2 linked regions of the Homo sapiens genome follow. The protein of the gene in region 1 purifies or fractionates together with the protein of each later gene. This does not show direct contact. Each region holds a gene or a part of one and is shown in the gene's direction. Other genes may lie near its edges.

Region 1 (3,500 bases):
TGCGCCACTGCACTCCAGCCTGGCTGACAGAGTGAGACTCTGTCTCAAGAAAAACACAATGAATAAACATACATATTGGACTCTATAGGTGACTTAGGTGTGTGGGTGATTTCAAGAGTCATTTTGATTATATGTATTTTTTTTTCTACCTTCTAACTTAGAACCTAACACTCTAGAATATTTTCCCCTGTTACTCTCTCCCATTTTCCCTAATAACAACTTTATTTATCTCAGAATTTTTGAGATAATGTTTTGACCTAAAGGAATGACTTCAGATATGGAATTTTTTTATTCTTTAATTTTTATTTTATATATATATATATATAAAAGGAGTATCGGTCTGCTGCCCAGGCCAGAGTGCAGTGGCGTGGTCTCGGCTCAGTGCAACCTCCACCTCCTGGGTTCAAGTGATTCTCCTGCCTCAGCCTCTGGAGTAGTTGGAATTATATACACGCACCACCACGCCCAGTTAATTTTTGTATTTTTAGTAGAGATGGGGTTTCGACATGTTGGCCAGGCTGGTCTCGAACTCCTGACCTCAGGTGATCCACCTGCCTCTGCCTCCACCTCCCAAAGTGCTGGGATTACAGGCATGAGCCACTGCACCCGGCCCAGATATGGAATTTTGCCACTGTGGCTGCCTGCACAGGTTTTGGGAACAGACTTCATGGGGCTATTCTTAACTGTGAAAAGAACCATTCCTGGTGATAATTCGTAATTTTATGTATAAGATCATAGATGTATCTAGTTGTGTGTATCATTTTGGGCAAGTCACTTAGCCTTTCTCTGGGTTTCGGTTTTCTTATCTATAAGATAAGGAGTTGGAATTCTCTTCATCTTAAGTGTCTTTTTTTTTTCTTTTTGAGACAGAGTCTCACTCTGTCACCCAAGCTGGAGTGCAGTGACACGATCTCTGCTCTCTGAAGCCTCTGCCTTCCGGTTTCAAGTGATTCTCATGCCTCAGCCTCCTGAGTAGCTGGAAATACAAGCGTGCACCACCATGCCTGACTAATTTTTGTAATCCTAAGTGTCTTTGAATCTAATTGAAGATGTCATATCAGTTCATATTAATTGCCTCATAAAATTTTCAAGCTTTTAAAGTTTTCAGTTGGCTGCTCTGTTTTGTGGAGAATCATTTTTGCTTTCACTTTTTTTTCATAAGTTCATGGACAGTGTATAAATTGAGTTTTTGGAGAATTAAAATAGAATACAATAAAGAATACAGAAAAAACAGTAATCAAAACCACATGCAGAGAAATGTAGCACAGAATTGTAAGACAGAAGAATCAGGAATGATACAAGTGGTTAAACAGTGGATAGGTTTAAATGGGGGACAAAAGGGGACCCCAGGCAACAGTTTTAAAGAATGAATTGAACATTTCATGCCTCTTGGTCAAATTCTCAAAGACTTAGAATTAAGAGAAATAAATCTCTTGTTTGAATAGGCCATTAGAAAGCAAGCATGTCTGGAAAAGTGTATGAAACCCAAACCAGTTGACTATGCTATTTGTTAGCATCTCTGGCAAATAGCGTAGCAGTGGAAGGGATTGAATAATTGGCTAGCAGAAGGTTTTGAATTATCTGTGGACTTTAGTGATCTATGTAATTCTTGTATTCTGCAGCAAAAATATTGTGGAGCTACACATATGGGAACAATAAAGACTCATAAAGACATGTTTTATGAAGTGGAACTTATAGATGAGAGGCTGTGTTTGTTTTTAATAATGCATGTTGCTAGTTGCTAAGAATTGACAGTTATTATTTGTAGTATTTTCCTAGAGATAGCACCATATTTATCTACATGGAATATGTACAGGGAGTGCCAAGAAAATCTGTTGTTCTTTGACCACTCTGCAGCCTGACATACAAATAATACATTTTAGTAGCAGATGGAACATGAGGAAATGCCAATTTGATTTGGTATGGCCCTGCATCATGCCATAGCAATATGGAACCTGTGTCTGCATCTTACATTCTTTCTTCAACATAGAATAGGAAGTGACAGCAATTTAAGTTATGAATTAAAACTTTATAGCTGGGAGGGACTTTTAACATTTTTTCTCCAACCCACTCATTACATGATGCAGGGAGGCTTAATGACAGAGTTGCACAATTAAGACGTACCTGGGACCAGAACCCAGGTTATCTTCTTTTCAGTAGCGATAATTCACTTGTAGATTCCTCACATAGTAGATATCTAAATAGGAGATAGAACAGTTACCTATTGAGACTTTACATTCATTGAAGGAGTCATTGTTGGAACTAAGAGAGCAAGGAAACCGTCGTCTGTGAACAGGAGTTAATTACATTGATTAACTCTAACCAAGTTGTTTTTTTCACCAGGACCATTTTAAGAGACCACAATACCCAGGCAGCAGCTTCACAGGGTGGCCTTTAAGGTCTAGAAAAACAACATGGTTAATATGTACAAATATGATTTGCCTGATGTTTTGGTGAAGCTGATTGCGCTACTGCAACAAGGCCTTTACAGTGCCCTGAAAACCCGGTTAGTTTCATGAACTTCAGAATATATTAAGGGATAGTTTTGGAGAAAATTTTGAGCAAAGCATGACCTTCTGAAACACATGAGGGCTGGATTATAATACAGGGTAGTAAATCTCAGCTCTGACAATCTATATTGGTTTGTTTACTCCTGTGCTATGTTGACCAGTTTAGGAGCCAGACAGCTTCAAGTCTGTTCTAGGTTTTAGAGTCTTTGTAAATTGGCCAATTTTTTTTTTTTTTTCTTCAAGACAGGATCTTGCTTTGTCACCCAGGCTGCAGTGCAGTGGGTGAACAAGGCTCACTGCAGCCTTGACCTCCTGGGCTCAAGCGATTCTTCTGCCTCAGCACCCCAAGTAGCTGGGAATATAGGTACACACCACCATACCTGGCTATTTTTTTTTTTTTTTTTTGTAAAGATAGGGTTTCGCCATGTTGCCCAGACTGGTCTCAAACTCCTGAGCTCCTGCCTCAGCCTCCCAAAGTGCTGGGATAATTGGCATGAGCCACCATGCCCGGCCAAGGAGAGACAGCTTAAAAAATTTTATTCATGCTACCTATTTTCACTTCAATTCAAACAACTAACAAAATAAAGAAAAGGGAATAAATTGTTTGTCTAATTAGTCTATTTATGCTTTAGCAGTTTGAAGGCAGAATTTTGGATTAGAGGATGGGCATGGTAGCTCATACCTGTAATCAATCCTAGCACTTTGGGAGGCCGAGGCGGGTGGATTGCTTGAGCCCAGGAGTTTGAGACCAGCCTTGGCAACATGGTGAAATCTCGTCTCTACTAAAAACACAAAAATTAGCCGGGTGTGGTAGCATGTATCTATAATCCCAGCTACTCTGGAGGCTGAGGCACAAGAATCACTTGAACCCAGAAGGCAGAGGTTGCAGTGAGCTGAGATTGTGCCACTGCACTCCAGCCTGGGCCACAGAGCGAGACTCCATCTCAGAAAAAAAGAAGTTTGGTTTAGAGACAGTTATGTAAAGGTAAT
Region 2 (2,650 bases), on another chromosome or scaffold:
CGAAAAGATCTGGGGAAGAGCATCTGGCAGAAGGAAGAGCCAGCACAAAGGCCCTGGGGCAGGAGGGAGCTTAGAGTGAGGAACAGCAGGGAGGCTGGTGTGGCTGGAGCTTTGTGAGCGAGTAGGGAGGGAAAGTGGAGGGGAAAGTAGGGAGGGAAAGTGGAGGGGAGAGTAGGGAGGGAAAGTGGAGGGGAGAAGACGAGGATAGCAGGGGGCGATGCCAGACCATGAAGGGCCTTGTAGGGCCTAGGGAGGACTTTGGATTTTATTCTAAGAGGACTGGGAAGCCCTGGAGGGCTTTAAACGGGAGCGATGCAGCTTGAATCCCAGTTGGGAAGGATGGGCCAAAGGGAGCACCAGAGTGATGTTAGGGGCACATTGCAGGGCCGTTACTGTTTTCTGTGGGGTATCTGGGGGCAGTTGGACGTTGGGGTCTGAAGGTCACAAGCAAGGTGTTGGCTTGAGCTGGGGAGGGGACAGCCCTTGGTATAGAGGCAGAAACTGAAGCTGGGAGGGACTGGATTAATCCTGCACTTGTGTTTAGGGTAGGAGAGGAGATAGGCCAGGGTGGGCAGAGGGTATGCCTGCTTGAACGTGGGCCTGTGGCATGGCAGTGGCAGAGGAATAGAAGCCTCAATGGCCACCTTCCCACCCCCTTACTTCCTCCTACTGCCCCTCCCTGCCCTACCCATGCTCCTCCCCCTGCCATCCTGCCCTTGGGACTCCCTGAGCCTCCCTTGGGCTGTCAGATTGCCCCCAGGTTCAGTGTGTTAGGACATACAAGGCACTGCACCCAGATGAGCTGACCTTGGAGAAGACTGACATCCTGTCAGTGAGGACCTGGACCAGTGACGGTGAGGGGGCCTCCTGGGAAAGTGTCCCTGATGGGGCTTGGGTGGGCAGGAGGTGGCTAGATGACTAAGATATCACAGGGAAAGGTTCTGCAAGTGTTGATCTGCCACAGCATGTGGGAATCAGGTTAGATGAGAGGAGGAACTTCCTGCTTGTAAAGATATAGGATGGAGAGTGATGGGGGAGAGTGGGAAATACCCTTTCAGAGGATATCAGGAAAAACAGGTCAGAAGTTCATCTGCAAGACAGCTCAAGACAGGGTCCTTCCTGGAGCTGAGAGATGCTGAGATGATGTCACCTTGGCCCCAAGGGTGCAGACAAAGCTTGCATCAGGGCTGTGGTGTTCCCTTCCAGGCCTGGCCCTGGTACCCCTTTGATGCTGTTGTTCTTGGCCTATGTGTCCCTAGGCTGGCTGGAAGGGGTCCGCCTGGCAGATGGTGAGAAGGGGTGGGTGCCCCAGGCCTATGTGGAAGAGATCAGCAGCCTCAGCGCCCGCCTCCGAAACCTCCGGGAGAATAAGCGAGTCACAAGTGCCACCAGCAAACTGGGGGAGGCTCCTGTGTGATGGGCAGCCATGGCCTAGGACCCCACCTCCATGCCTGGCTCCTGGATGGTCCTGGAGGGGCCTGCAGTGTCTCCATTCCCCAAGCTGCTCCTGCTGGCACTTCGCTTCTGTGGCCTTGGCATTGAGGGCACAGGCTGGACACAGGAATGGGGGCGCCTCCAGAGGGTCTCTCCGTCCTCATGCTCCTCAGTGTCCACACTTCAAGGCCAAGGATAGTTTCTTCCTCTGACATGGGGACCATAACAGGTGATCACTGATACCTGGCAAAGACTGGGGCCCTCTCCTTTCTATGTCCTCAATCCTGCCTGACTCTTGGTCCTTCTGGCAGGGACCTGGCTGGGGAACGTTCTGGTGCTGATGGTGCTGGGACCTATATGTATATTTATATATATCTGGGGTCTTGTCTACCACCTCCCCTGGTCAGAGCCTGAGTGGGTGCTGGTTGCTGTGTCTTGTCTGTAAATAAACTCCTATCATGCCTTTGCTTGGAGTCTGTGATCCATCTGATGCTGCCCCCACCCCCACAGTCCTATTTTCCCAGCTAAAGACCAGGAGAGTCTCCGGCTGGCTCCCAACTGGGGCTTTGCATTTCTCTAGAGTTCATCTCTGAGCTGTAAGGGTGACCAGGGGGCAGGGGGACGATTGTGTATCAGCTAGGCTGCTTTTGGCTGCAAGTAACAAAATATCAGATACAAATAGGCTTAAACATTAAAGAGATTTGATTAGTTCTTTATTTGTTTCCTGTGGCTTCTATAACAAAATTACTTCAAACTGAGTGACTTAAAACAATATTTTCTTCTCTCACAGTTCTGGAGGCCGAGTCCAAAATCAGCAGCACTGGGCCCACACCCAGGGGCTGTACCCCCTCCCGGGGCTCGAGGGGAGAGTGGTTCCTCACCTCTTCTCGCTGCTGGTGGCTGCCGTGTTCCTTGACTTGCAGCCGTATCACTCTGATCTCTGCCTCCGTGGTCACACTGCCTTCTCTGTGTGTCTATACCAAATTTCCCTCTGCCTCCCTCTGATAAACAAGTGATTGCATTTCAGGCCCACCCAGATAATCTTCCCATCTCATAATCCTTAATTTAAATCACATCTGCAAAAACCCTCTGCGCCCCCGCCCCCCACTTTTTTGTCATATGAGGTAACATTCACGGGTTCCAAGGACTAGGGCATGGATATCTTTTGGGGGCCATTTTTCAGCCCAAGCTGGAGTGCAGTGGTGCAATCTTGGCT

Evidence for each region. The genes of interacting proteins can lie anywhere in the genome.
Region 2: the proteins of SRGAP1 (region 1) and ARHGEF19 purify together in Homo sapiens (affinity purification with mass spectrometry; one large-scale study listed by BioGRID and IntAct). This does not show direct contact.

Annotation. Positions count from the first base shown.
Region 1 is NC_000012.12:63,847,700-63,851,199, forward strand, and holds part of SRGAP1 (SLIT-ROBO Rho GTPase-activating protein 1), read left to right. Parts: intron 1-3,500. UniProt on the Homo sapiens protein: GTPase-activating protein for RhoA and Cdc42 small GTPases. Together with CDC42 seems to be involved in the pathway mediating the repulsive signaling of Robo and Slit proteins in neuronal migration.
Region 2 is NC_000001.11:16,197,354-16,200,003, reverse strand, and holds the end of ARHGEF19 (rho guanine nucleotide exchange factor 19), read left to right. Parts: intron 1-749; coding exon 750-854; intron 855-1,259; coding exon 1,260-1,417; 3' UTR 1,418-2,150; downstream 2,151-2,650. UniProt on the Homo sapiens protein: Acts as a guanine nucleotide exchange factor (GEF) for RhoA GTPase.